Homo sapiens: one gene and its partners. The protein of the gene in region 1 purifies or fractionates together with the protein of each later gene. This does not show direct contact. Each region holds a gene or a part of one and is shown in the gene's direction. Other genes may lie near its edges.

Evidence for each region.
Region 2: the proteins of SLC39A5 (region 1) and GOLPH3L purify together in Homo sapiens (affinity purification with mass spectrometry; 3 studies listed by BioGRID and IntAct, with this or other methods). This does not show direct contact.
Region 3: the proteins of SLC39A5 (region 1) and MIA3 purify together in Homo sapiens (affinity purification with mass spectrometry; 3 studies listed by BioGRID and IntAct, with this or other methods). This does not show direct contact.

The regions. Positions count from the first base shown.
Region 1 is NC_000012.12:56,232,943-56,236,689, forward strand, and holds part of SLC39A5 (zinc transporter ZIP5 precursor), read left to right. Parts: intron 1-1,881; coding exon 1,882-2,044; intron 2,045-2,214; coding exon 2,215-2,384; intron 2,385-2,617; coding exon 2,618-2,758; intron 2,759-3,431; exon of another isoform or gene 3,432-3,453; coding exon 3,454-3,550; intron 3,551-3,639; coding exon 3,640-3,747. UniProt on the Homo sapiens protein: Uniporter that transports zinc(2+) into polarized cells of enterocytes, pancreatic acinar and endoderm cells across the basolateral membrane and participates, notably, in zinc excretion from the intestine by the uptake of zinc from the blood into the intestine.
Region 2 is NC_000001.11:150,648,555-150,652,301, reverse strand, and holds part of GOLPH3L (Golgi phosphoprotein 3-like), read left to right. Parts: intron 1-3,074; coding exon of another isoform or gene 3,075-3,121; exon of another isoform or gene 3,122-3,170; intron 3,171-3,553; coding exon 3,554-3,747. UniProt on the Homo sapiens protein: Phosphatidylinositol-4-phosphate-binding protein that may antagonize the action of GOLPH3 which is required for the process of vesicle budding at the Golgi and anterograde transport to the plasma membrane.
Region 3 is NC_000001.11:222,616,412-222,620,158, forward strand, and holds the start of MIA3 (transport and Golgi organization protein 1 homolog isoform 1 precursor), read left to right. Parts: upstream 1-1,685; 5' UTR 1,686-1,699; coding exon 1,700-1,832; intron 1,833-3,747.

The DNA.
Region 1 (3,747 bases):
AGTTTTTTGTTTTGTTTTGTTTTTAAATCCCAACGTGGACCAAGCGTGGTGGCTCACGCCTGTAATCCCAACACTTTGGGAGGCCGAGGTGGGTGGATCACCTGAGGTCAGGAGTTCGAGACCAGCCTGGCCAACATGGTGAAACCCCATCTCTACTAAAAAATACAAAAATTAGCCGGGTGTGGTAACAGGTGTGTGTAATCCTAGCTACTCAGGAGGCTGAGGTGAGAAAATTGCTTGAACTTGGGAGGCAGAGGTTGCAGTGAGCCAAGATGGCACCATTTGCACTCCAGCCTGGGCAACAAGAGGGAGACTCTGTCTCAAAAAAAAAAAAAAAAAAAAAAAAAAAAAAAAAAAAATAGCTGGGCGTGGTGGCACATGCCTATAATCCCAGTTACTCGGAAGGCTGAGGCAGGAAAATCACTTGAACCCAGGAGGCGGAGATTGCAGTCAGCCGAGATTGCACCACTGCACTCCAGCCTGGGTAACACAGCGAGACTCTGTCTCAAAAATGAAAATAAAAAAAATAAAAAAATAAAAAAAAAATATCTCACTGTGGTCTTAGGGGATGTTATTTCAATAGTGAACTATGTTCCCTCTGGGATCAGAGCAGGTGAGCCCATATCCAGAGCTCCAAGACTCAGTTTAGGGGAATAGATGGCAAAGCAGAGAATCTAGAGAAGCAGCCCAGGGTAGGATCTGGATGGTCACCTGGAGAGGAGACCTGCAGGGAATGGATGGCTGTCTTCATCCAGAAAGACAGAGAATATATTCCACTTACACCAGAGGGCAGACAAAGCTGCCTAACCCTGATGGAGGTCCAGTGAGTGCCCATTGCAGGAAGCATTCAAGCTGAGGCTGGATGAACATCGACAGGGCTGTTGAGAGGGAGATTAGATGGCATTTCAGGGTCTTTTCCCTTTTAAGATTCTGGCATGGAGAGCTCTAGTTTTCCAACCAGCTTCATTTATCAAATCAACAAAATGATTGAAATGATCAGAGTTTGCAGGGAAGATGATGACAATGCTCACTAGCACCCAGTTTGCATCAAATTGAATACCTGCATTGGACTGAATATTCACTAATAATACACATTGATTATAAGTACCCTTGGCCCTAGTCCCCAAGGTACCTGCCAGTAGGAGCAAAGGGGACCCTGGGAGAGACCCAGGAGTCTATGCAATGGAAGGACAGGTGTTAAATATATATATATATATTTTTTTGAGGTAGAGTCTGACTCTGTCACCCAGGCTGGAGTGCAATGGCGTGATCTTGGCTCACTGCAACCTCCACCTCCTGGGTTAAAGCAATTCTCCTGCCTCAGCCTCCCGAGTAGCTGGGATTATAGGTGTTCACTACTATCCCCAGCTAATTTTTTTTTTTTTTTTTTGAGATGGAGTCTCACTCTGTCGCCCAGGCTGGAGTGCACTGGTGCAATCTCGGCTCACTGCAACCTCTGCCTCCTGGGTTCAAGCGATTCTCCTGTCTCAGCCTCCTGAGTAGCTGGGATCACAGGTGCACGCCACCATGCCCAGCTAATTTTTTGTATTTTAGTAGAGACAGGGTTTCACCATGTTGCCCAGGCTGGTCTCGAACTCCTGAGCTCAGGCAATCTACCCACCTCAGCCTCCCAAAGTGCTGGGATTACAGGCGTGAGCCACCGCACCCGGCTCATCCCCAGCTAATTTTTGTATTTTTAGTAGAGACAGGGTTTCACTATGTTGGCCAGGTTGGTCTCAAACTCCTGACCTCAGATGATACACCCGCCTGGGCCTCTCAAGGGCTGGGATTATAGGTGTGAGCCACTACACCTGGCCAGGTGTTAAAGATCTGAGTCATAGTTCCTGGTGATTCTCCAATGTATGACCCTCAATTCTCCAGTGTCTGAACGGCTCCCAGCTGCTGGTCAATTTTGGCTTGAGCCCCGCTGCTCCTCTGACCCCTCGTCAGTTTGCTCTGCTGTGCCCAGCCCTGCTTTATCAGATCGACAGCCGCGTCTGCATCGGCGCTCCGGCCCCTGCACCCCCAGGGGATCTACTATCTGGTCAGCAAGTAGGAGTGGGTGGGGGACACCCTGAATCCTGGAAGTGGGGCCCATGCCAAAAAGGAGGCTCACTGGGGTCCTGCCTCTCCTTGTAGTGTTCTCTCTGCTCCACCTTACGTGTGGGACCCTCCTCTTGCCCTGACCTAACTTCAGCCCCTGATTCTCCCCAGCCCTGCTTCAGAGTGCCCTGGCAGTCCTGTTGCTCAGCCTCCCTTCTCCCCTATCCCTGCTGCTGCTGCGGCTCCTGGGACCTCGTCTACTACGGCCCTTGCTGGGCTTCCTGGGGGCCCTGGCGGTGGGCACTCTTTGTGGGGATGCACTGCTACATCTGCTACCGCATGTATGTGAAGCCCCTTCCTTGTACCCCTGGCCTCCATGGATCTAAGGTGTCCCCAGCCATAGGACATCCCCTCCGCCTTTCCATCAGCTCCCATATCCTACTCCCAGATCCTGGCTTCAGCCCACAGCTGCCTTCTAGTAGAGCATATGAGCGAAGGCTTGCCACAATCCATGCAAGGGGATGTTGTTGGGTATAGGGGCTTCCAGAGTCTGCCCTGACCTTCTCTCTGTCAGGCACAAGAAGGGCGGCACGCAGGACCTGGCGGACTACCAGAGAAGGACCTGGGCCCGGGGCTGTCAGTGCTCGGAGGCCTCTTCCTGCTCTTTGTGCTGGAGAACATGCTGGGGCTTTTGCGGCACCGAGGGCTCAGGCCAGTGAGTGATACCCTTTTCTCCTCCTTCTGCTGAGACCAGAGTCCCAGTCAAGAACTGGGCCAGGCCGGGCGCGGTGGCTCACGCCTGTAATCCCAGCACTTTGGGAGCCCAAGGCGGGCAGATCACAAGGTTAGGAGTTCGAGTCCAGCCTGACCAACATGGTGAAACCCTGTCTCTACTAAAAATACAAAAATTAGCTGGGCGTGGTGGTGCGTGTCTGTAATCCCAGCTACTCAGGAGGCTGAGGCAGGAGAATCGCTTGACTTGGGAGGTGGAGGTTGCAGCGAGCTAAGATGGCACCACTGCACTCCAGCCCAGGTGACAGAGCGAGACTCCATCTCAAAAACAACAACAACAACAACAAAACTGGGCCAAAAAGCCAAGAGATGAGGAGCAGTGTGTGCTCCTGGATCTCTGACATTTGCCTGGTGTGCAGGACCTATCGGCTAACAGGGAGTGGGTAGGGGCTCCTTAAGCACAGACCCAGGACTTCTGGCCAAATGGCATCCTATTCTGAGCTCAAGTCAACAAGAAACAGAGGGGAGGTGCCAACTTGGGAAGAAGGTAGAGGCCAAAGAACATCCCAGGTGCCAGAGGTGGAACCAGGTGTTCATCTTCCCAGCTTGTGGCCTGGCTTCCCCTTAGTCCCTGGCTCTGCTGCCTCCTCCACCAGGAGGGATGCCCTCCTATTTCAGAGATGCTGCAGGCGAAAACGAAGGAATCTCGAAACACGCAACTTGGATCCGGAGAATGGCAGTGGGATGGCCCTTCAGCCCCTACAGGCAGCTCCAGGTGACTAGAGGAGAAAATTTGAAGAGTAGGTTCCAAGCTCACAGTCCTTACTTGCAGCCACCAACACTGTCCTGTGCTTCTTCCCGCAGAGCCAGGGGCTCAGGGCCAGAGGGAGAAGAACAGCCAGCACCCACCAGCTCTGGCCCCTCCTGGGCACCAAGGCCACAGTCATGGGCACCAGGGTGGCACTGATATCA
Region 2 (3,747 bases), on another chromosome or scaffold:
TCAAGTGATTCTCCTGCCTCAGCCTCCTGAGTAGCTGGGACTACAAGTGCATGCCACCACACCTGCTTTGCTTTTATTTCTGAAAGATAGTTTGCCAGTTATAAGATTCTTGGCTAATAGTTTCTACCCTCACTTTGAATAAGTCTACTCATTCTTCTGGCCTGCATTTTTTCTAATGGGAAGTCAGTTATTAAGCTTACAAAGTTCCACTGTGATGTGATAAGTCATTTTTCTCTTCTGCTTTCATGATTTTCCACTTATTTTTGGTTTTCAACATTTTTACTATGATGTTGGATATGGGTCTCTTTGTGTTCATCCAACTTGGAGTTTGTTGAACTTCTCCAATGTGTGGTTGAGTGTTTTTCATCACGTTTGGCAAGATTTTAGCCATTACTTTCTTGAGTATTTTTTCTGCCTCTTTCTCTCCTTTCCTTCTGGTGCTTCCATTTTATGTATGTTCATCAAGTTGATGATACTTTATATTTCTCTGAGTCTGTTCATTTTTCTTCATTCTCTTTTCTCCTTGTTCTTCATATTACATAATTTCTTTGATCTCTAAGTTTGCTAATTCTTTATTTTGCCAGCTCAGATCTCTTGTTGGATCCCTTGAGTGATTTTTTCATTTTGTTTGTTGTACTTTTTTTTTTTTTTTTTTTTTTGAGTTTCGCTCTGTCGCTGAGGCTGGAGTGTAATGGTGTGATCTTGGCTCATTGCAACCTCCGCCTCCTGGGTTCAAGTGATTCTCCTGCCTCAGCCTCCTGAGTAGCTGGAACTACAGGCACACACCACCATACCCGGCTAATTTTGTATTTTTAGTAGAGACAGGGTTTCACCATATTGGCCAGGCTGGTCTCAAACTCCTGGCTTCAAGTAATCCGCCTGCCTCAGCCTCCCAAAGTGCTGGGATTACAGACGTGAGCCACCATGCCCAGTCTGTTGTACTTTTAAACTCTAGGATTTCTAAATGGTTTTTTTGTTTTTGTTTTTTTGAGATGGAGTCTTGCTTTGTTGCCCAGGCTGGAGTGCAGTGGCACTATCTCAGCTCATTGCAGCCTCCACCTCCCAGGTTCAAGCGATTCTCTGCCTCAGCCTCCTGAGCAGCTGGGATTACAGGTGCCCACCATACCTGGCTAATTTTTGTATTTTTAGTAGAGATGGCGTTTCGCCATGTTGGCCAGGCTTGTCTTGAACTCCTGGCCTCAAATGATCCACCCACCTCAGCCTCTCAAAATGCTGGGATTACAGGCGTGAGCCACCGCACCTGGTCTAAATGGATCTTTTTTATAATTTCTGTCTTTATTTATATTCTCTATATGATAAGTCATGGTTTCCCTTAGGTCTTTGAACATATTTATAAAAGCTGCTTTATAGTCTTTGTAAAGTCCAACATTTTAGCGTTCTCAAAGGCAGTTTCCATTGCCTGCTTTTTTTCTTCTGAATGGGTCAATGGGTCACAATTTATTCTTTGTATACTTCATACTTTTTTGTCAAAAACTGGACATTTTAGATAATTGTGCAACTCTGGATACTACACTGCAGCTGTCCCCAACTTTTCTGGCACCAGGACAGGTTTCGTGGAAGACAGTTTTTCCACTGGGGTGGGAGACGGGGGGATGGTTTCGGTATGATTCAAGTGCATTGCATTTATTAGAGTCTCACAAGGAACATGCAACCTAGATCCCTCCCATGTGCAGTTCACAATAGGGTTCACACTCCTGTGGGAACCTAATGCCACTGCTGATCTGATGGGAGGCAGAGCTCAACTTTACTCACCCATGGCTCACCTCCTGCTGTGCAGCCGGGTTCCTAACAGGCTGCAGACCAGTACCAGTCCATGGTCCAGGGGTTGGGGACACCTGCTATACTGGTTTCTCCTTCCCACTAGAGGTTGATTGTGTTGTTTGCTTGGTAATTTGTTTCCTTAGTGACTTGCCTGCAGCAGCTCTCTGAAGTCTGTTTCTCTTGTAGTGTGCAGCCTCTGATGTCACTGCTCATATTTTCTTGTTTTTATCTTTTGGCCTAACTCCCTGTGTGTTGCCAGTGGGTCAGTAGAAGCCACTTATTAGTCAAAGGTTGTGCTTAAGACCTTTTAGCCAATTAAATTTTTTTATCCTTTACTGTTGGATATGTGTGTGTGATTTTGACATAGCCATCACAAATCAGGGAGTTTACATTTTGCCCCACATTCAGTGAGGAACTAGCAGCTTGGAAGTTCCCTCTCTGATTTCTTCTCGGAGAGAGTACATCCTTGGACATACACCAGGGATGTATGTGATTTTTTTAATTTTATTTTTATTTTTTATTTTTCATTTCTTGAGATGAAGTCTCACTCTGTCACTCAGGCTGGAGTGCAGTGGTACAATCTCAGCTGACTGAAACCTCCGCCTCCTGGGTTTTCCTGCCTAAGCCTCCAAGTAGCTGGGACTACAGGCGTGTACCACCACACCCGGCTATTATTATTATTTTTAAGCTTAGCTTTCTAGGAGTTGCCTCTGAGTTAGGGTAGCTTATTGTTCAGCCAGTGTTGGTTCAGTGGTTGTGCTTTAGCCCTTGGTGCCAGTGAAGCATCCACCCTTTTTTGATAGATCTATGTGTGGTCTGGGGAATACTCTCAAGTCAAGCCCCACGTCCTGCTCTGATTGCTCCTGAGTGGGTGCAGCCTGGTGCAAGCACACAGTCTTCCCAACCCCCAGTGTTGGTCATGATTCCAGAAGGACTTTTCTTGGCTTTCTGTTTCTCTGGTTCTGCCTGTTAAACTTCTGGAGGCTTTGCCATTTGGGTTTGTCATACCAGTGCCATAGAGCTAGCAGCACCTTGTAATTGCTCTCCACCAAGATCTCTATGGTTTTCAACACCCTTAGGCATAGAATTCTCCACACTGTGTTCCAAATAAAGTCAGTCCTCTCAGGCAGAGCTTTGGAGCTCTTCATTCTTCAGGCCTTCCTTCCCTCCTGGGCAGAACTTCTGCACAAGGGCCCACTTCTCCTACAGTGATACCCACCTGCTGTATGAGTAGGTGCTGGGGGAAAGAGGTGTTAGCCCCTGGTCTTCTTGACTTGCCTTTTCTGTTGCAGAATCTCTAATCTACGAACAAGCTGGAATGGGAGCAATTGAAGTCTAAATATTGTCAGCCTACCAGGCCTGGGATAGAGCTTCTGCTCTACAAATAGGGTAGGGAACCTCAGTCCTCTTAGCTTCACCAGCAAATAGAACTTCCACAATATAGAGTAGAAATCATCTGGGAGAGACTGGTGTCCTAAATAGAATTTGAAAAATACATAAATAATTACAGTGTCACAGAGGTCACATAAGAACAGAAATAAAGTCTATAAGCTCTAGCAATATGGAAGTCCTTGGTGACATTTTTTGAAGCTGGTTTAATGTGAAATGTGGTTGGAGTCAAAGCCAGATTATAAAGGACTAAGGATTAAATGAATTGAGGAATGAAGATTATGCTTTTAAACATTTTAGCCATTCAAGTTTCCAAACAACTACATGTTTCATTTTGCTTTTCTCTTTCAGTTCATTATGTCCTATTTCTTTTTTCTCATAGGTGAGACCTGGAACCCCTTCAAATTACAGTACCAGCTGAGAAATGTACGAGAGCGCATCGCAAAGAACCTAGTAGAGAAAGGTATTCTAACCACTGAGAAGCAGAATTTCCTGCTATTTGACATGACTACTCATCCAGTGACCAATACAACAGAGAAACAGCGACTAGTGAAAAAACTTCAAGATAGTGTACTA
Region 3 (3,747 bases), on another chromosome or scaffold:
CTATTAGACACATCTAAGATATTAAAACAAATAAATACACAGTAGAAAAGAAATGAAGAATGAACAGAACTACTACTTGGATAGAAAGTGCTTGTCCGTGACCTTACCAAATGTATATTTCTCAAGACAGCATTGGAATTACATTGGCCCAGTAGGAACTCTCACGGCTCCTACAGACAAAAATTTGTGAGCATCTGTTTACCGTTTTTTCCTTATTCGATATAATGGATTGCACAGACAAGCCACATTCTTTCTTCTTGCTTTTAAGTAATACGATTTGTTTGGGAAACCAGCTGCTGGGTTTGTTGTTCAAGGTTGATGAGTAACCTTAGAGATTGCAATGAGAAGCTGCTGGTCACAGACAGATGCCAAGTTCTTCAACCAGGGCTGGAGAGCATTGTAGCCACTCTTCTGGAGAGCATTGTAGCCACTCTTCTCTGGGCTGACCTGCTCATGCAGTCCCCCGCTTTTTTAACTGCACATATAAATCATCCAGTTATAGTATGATTTAAATAAGATTTTGCTTCCCTGCTCAGAAAGAAAGTACAAAAATTGCTTGTTGCTTGATGGAGGCTTTACAGAGCTGTGATTAAAAAGGAGCATACTACCTGGGTTTGAATCTTAGCTCCATCACTCACTAGGTGTTTGAATGCCTTAAGGTAGTCATCTCTGAAATGGGGATCATAATAGGACCTACTACTCTAAGGTGCGATTGTTGTGAAGATTAATCTTAATTCTGGCATGAAATAAGTATAAAATGGAAGCTCATCACACTGTTATTAAATTAATTTACTTTTTTCCTATGGATATAGATCTAGGAATCTCAAGATCTCAGCCCAAGGACCATTACCCATTTCTATCAACGACCAAGCAGGCCACGGGCTCTGATTTATATCCTCAGCCCCCTATTCCACTCACCTCCCCCTTTCTTAATCAAAGAGCACCACGGGATGGTGCCCCCAAGGAAGCCCTGGGAGGCTGAAAAGGAGGGAGCCTGAAACCAGAGACTAACAGTGGCAAATCGCGGGTGGGATTTGGCAGTTCAGAAAAGGAGGTACCATGCCAAGAGTGGGGGTAGCGGGGTGAAGTAGCGGGGTGAAGTGGGGGGCTGGTTCGGGACAGGCCACAAACCAGAAACTGCGAGAAGGCGCCAGAAGGGACCTGTTGAGATGGCGCAGGGTTGGGGGACCCAAGCGCGCGGGGAGGGGTGAACTAAGAATGGAGTCACGCGGAGGTGCTGCGAGGGACTGGGGCAAAGGCAGGTGATTGGGCGAGGGAGTCCTGGTTGCCACGGCAGCGACCAGAGGAGAAGGCTTCGAGGAGAGGAGGAGGCTGCTGTCAGTCCTCCTCCTGGAGGTCTCCCGCATCCCTCCTAGAGCCTCTGCTGACGTGTCAGTCGGAAACTGCTCAGACCTTCGCGGGCGCCGCCCCTCTGCGCTTGTCTTCCCACATGCCCCCGGCGCTCCGCCTGGTCCCTGCCCGCGTCCCTGCCCCCGTCCCTGCCCCCGTCCCTGCCCCCGTCCCCGCCCCGTCCCCGCCCCCGCCCCCGCCCCCGTCCCCGCCCCCGTCCCCGCCCCGTCCCCGCCCCAGCCCCCGCCCCAGCCCCCCCGTCCCCGCCCCGTCCCCGCCCCCGTCCCGCCCCTCTGCGCCCGCCCCGGCCTCCTCCTCCGCGTCACCGGCTCCCCGAGGTGACCACAACATGGCTGCGGCGCCTGGGCTGCTCGTCTGGCTGCTCGTGCTCCGGCTGCCCTGGCGGGTGCCGGGCCAGCTGGACCCCAGCACTGGCCGGCGGTTCTCGGAGCACAAACTCTGCGCGGACGACGAATGCAGCAGTGAGTGCGCTGGAGGGGCGGCTGGCCTCGGGGCGGCTGGCCTTGGGGTCTCCGCCGGCCCCGGGGGTCTCCGCGGCGGCGCCGCCTGGGCTGTGCGGGGACGGGAGTTCCGCAGCCCCTGGCCGGCCCGGGGGTCGCAGGCGGGATGGGCTGAACGCGGGGGTGGGCGCGCTCCGGGTCCCTGTGTCTGCCTTCTCCCGCTCTGCCTGCGCCCGGCCCCTCGGGCCTGACCATGGGGGCTGCACCTCCCACTTGTTGCCAGCGTTTTATTTTTCCTCTGCTGAGGCGGGGGGTTGCTTGCGGTGGTCCCCGGCTTCCCCAATAGTGGCTCACAGCGTCCCCTTCCCACCCCCCCAATCCGCCTGGGCTCGGAGGGTAGATGTGGTTGCGCGCCGCGCGTCTGGGCTCCCCACGCCGCAACCAAAGCTTTCCTGCCCGCGCTGCGGGGACCTCGGTGGGTGCATCACCCCGGCAGATGCGCTAAGGGCTCGGTGGGCGTTTTCCCAGTGGCAGGTTGATGGTGGGGTTTGTTTGGAAAGGCTCCCTGGCGCTGCTCCTTTGCCCTTCTGCTTTATTGGGATTTGGGCTTGTACCGCCTTTTGAACAGGAATTGGGAGTTTAGGTTTGGGACGAGTCTGGAGTCCAAGCACTCATTGTATTCCGAGGTCTCTGCCCCGACTTTGATCAATCCTGTCGTTTCTGTGCTTGGAAGCCGCCTTGCAGACTGCTAGGCAGGACTGCAGGAAGACCAAAATCTTTCGCTCTGCAGAGACCGAGGATCTGCACCGGCCACCTGGGACCGGCAGCCTCCTCTTCTGTGCGCAGGAAGCGGAATTGCTCTCCAGTCTGGGATTGGAGGTGGGCGGTGGAGAGGGCACAGATCTTCAGGCTCAGATGAAGAAGGTTATTACAGGAATGACAGTAAATACTCCAAGGGTCTCATAAGCCAAGCTTGGTTTAGCCTTAGCCGCTTGCGTGTTGAAACCTCTTCCCTCTATGTTCGCCGGACCAGGATCATTTTAGGGCCTCCCAGACCGTCTCAACCTTGTAACTTACTGATAGCCACTGCAGAAACGGTTTTTCATACACTGTTAAGCAATGCCTATAGAAACGTATTCATTTTAAGAAGGCCAAGAACTCTATGGTTTAGCTATTTATATTCAAATTGATGTTATCAAAACCGAATTTCATAATATGAACTGTTTGTATCTCTACAACACTAATCAAGAAAAGAGATCTCTAATGAGTGTGAAGCCATTCCTAGAGATAACCCTGTGGTTGATGTAAATAAACACTACAAAAGCGGTACAACTGCCATGATTTTTCCCTTTAGTTTTCTTGGGTCAAAGCCACGCTGTTACCCATTTGCCGTTGGCAATGGCAAGATAGTTGGTATTCTTTGCTTGCAAGCATTGCCCTGCCTGGGTTCCTCAAAACAGGTTACCTGGAGAATCATCACATCACTGATGCTTCTTCAGTACTGAGGCATGATGTTAGAAGAGCTCACGGTTGTAACATAACTTGAGAAATGGTACGTGTTCAGAGGAAACCAAATACAATAGGCATCAACAGGAGCAAGGTCTAGATGGGTCTGTGTTGTGTTGTAGAAAGTGTTTAGTAATGTGAGTATGTACGGTGCCCTTGTGTGGTTTTCAAATAGCTGTTCCACAGGGTGCATTTTGTTGGCATCTCAAATATTATTATAAATCCTCTATGATCTATTGTAAGGGGGAGCAAAAGAAACATTGCCATTTTCAATTCTGATCTTATTCCCAACCTTAAATTGTCCATCATCTTAAACCTGGCCTCACACTCAATTATATCTGAGCTACAAAGCTGACATGTTGGAAAGTAATCAGAGTTTAGCTTCAAAAAACAAGTAGCCCCTTCCAAATCTATATGCGTGTATAGCCAT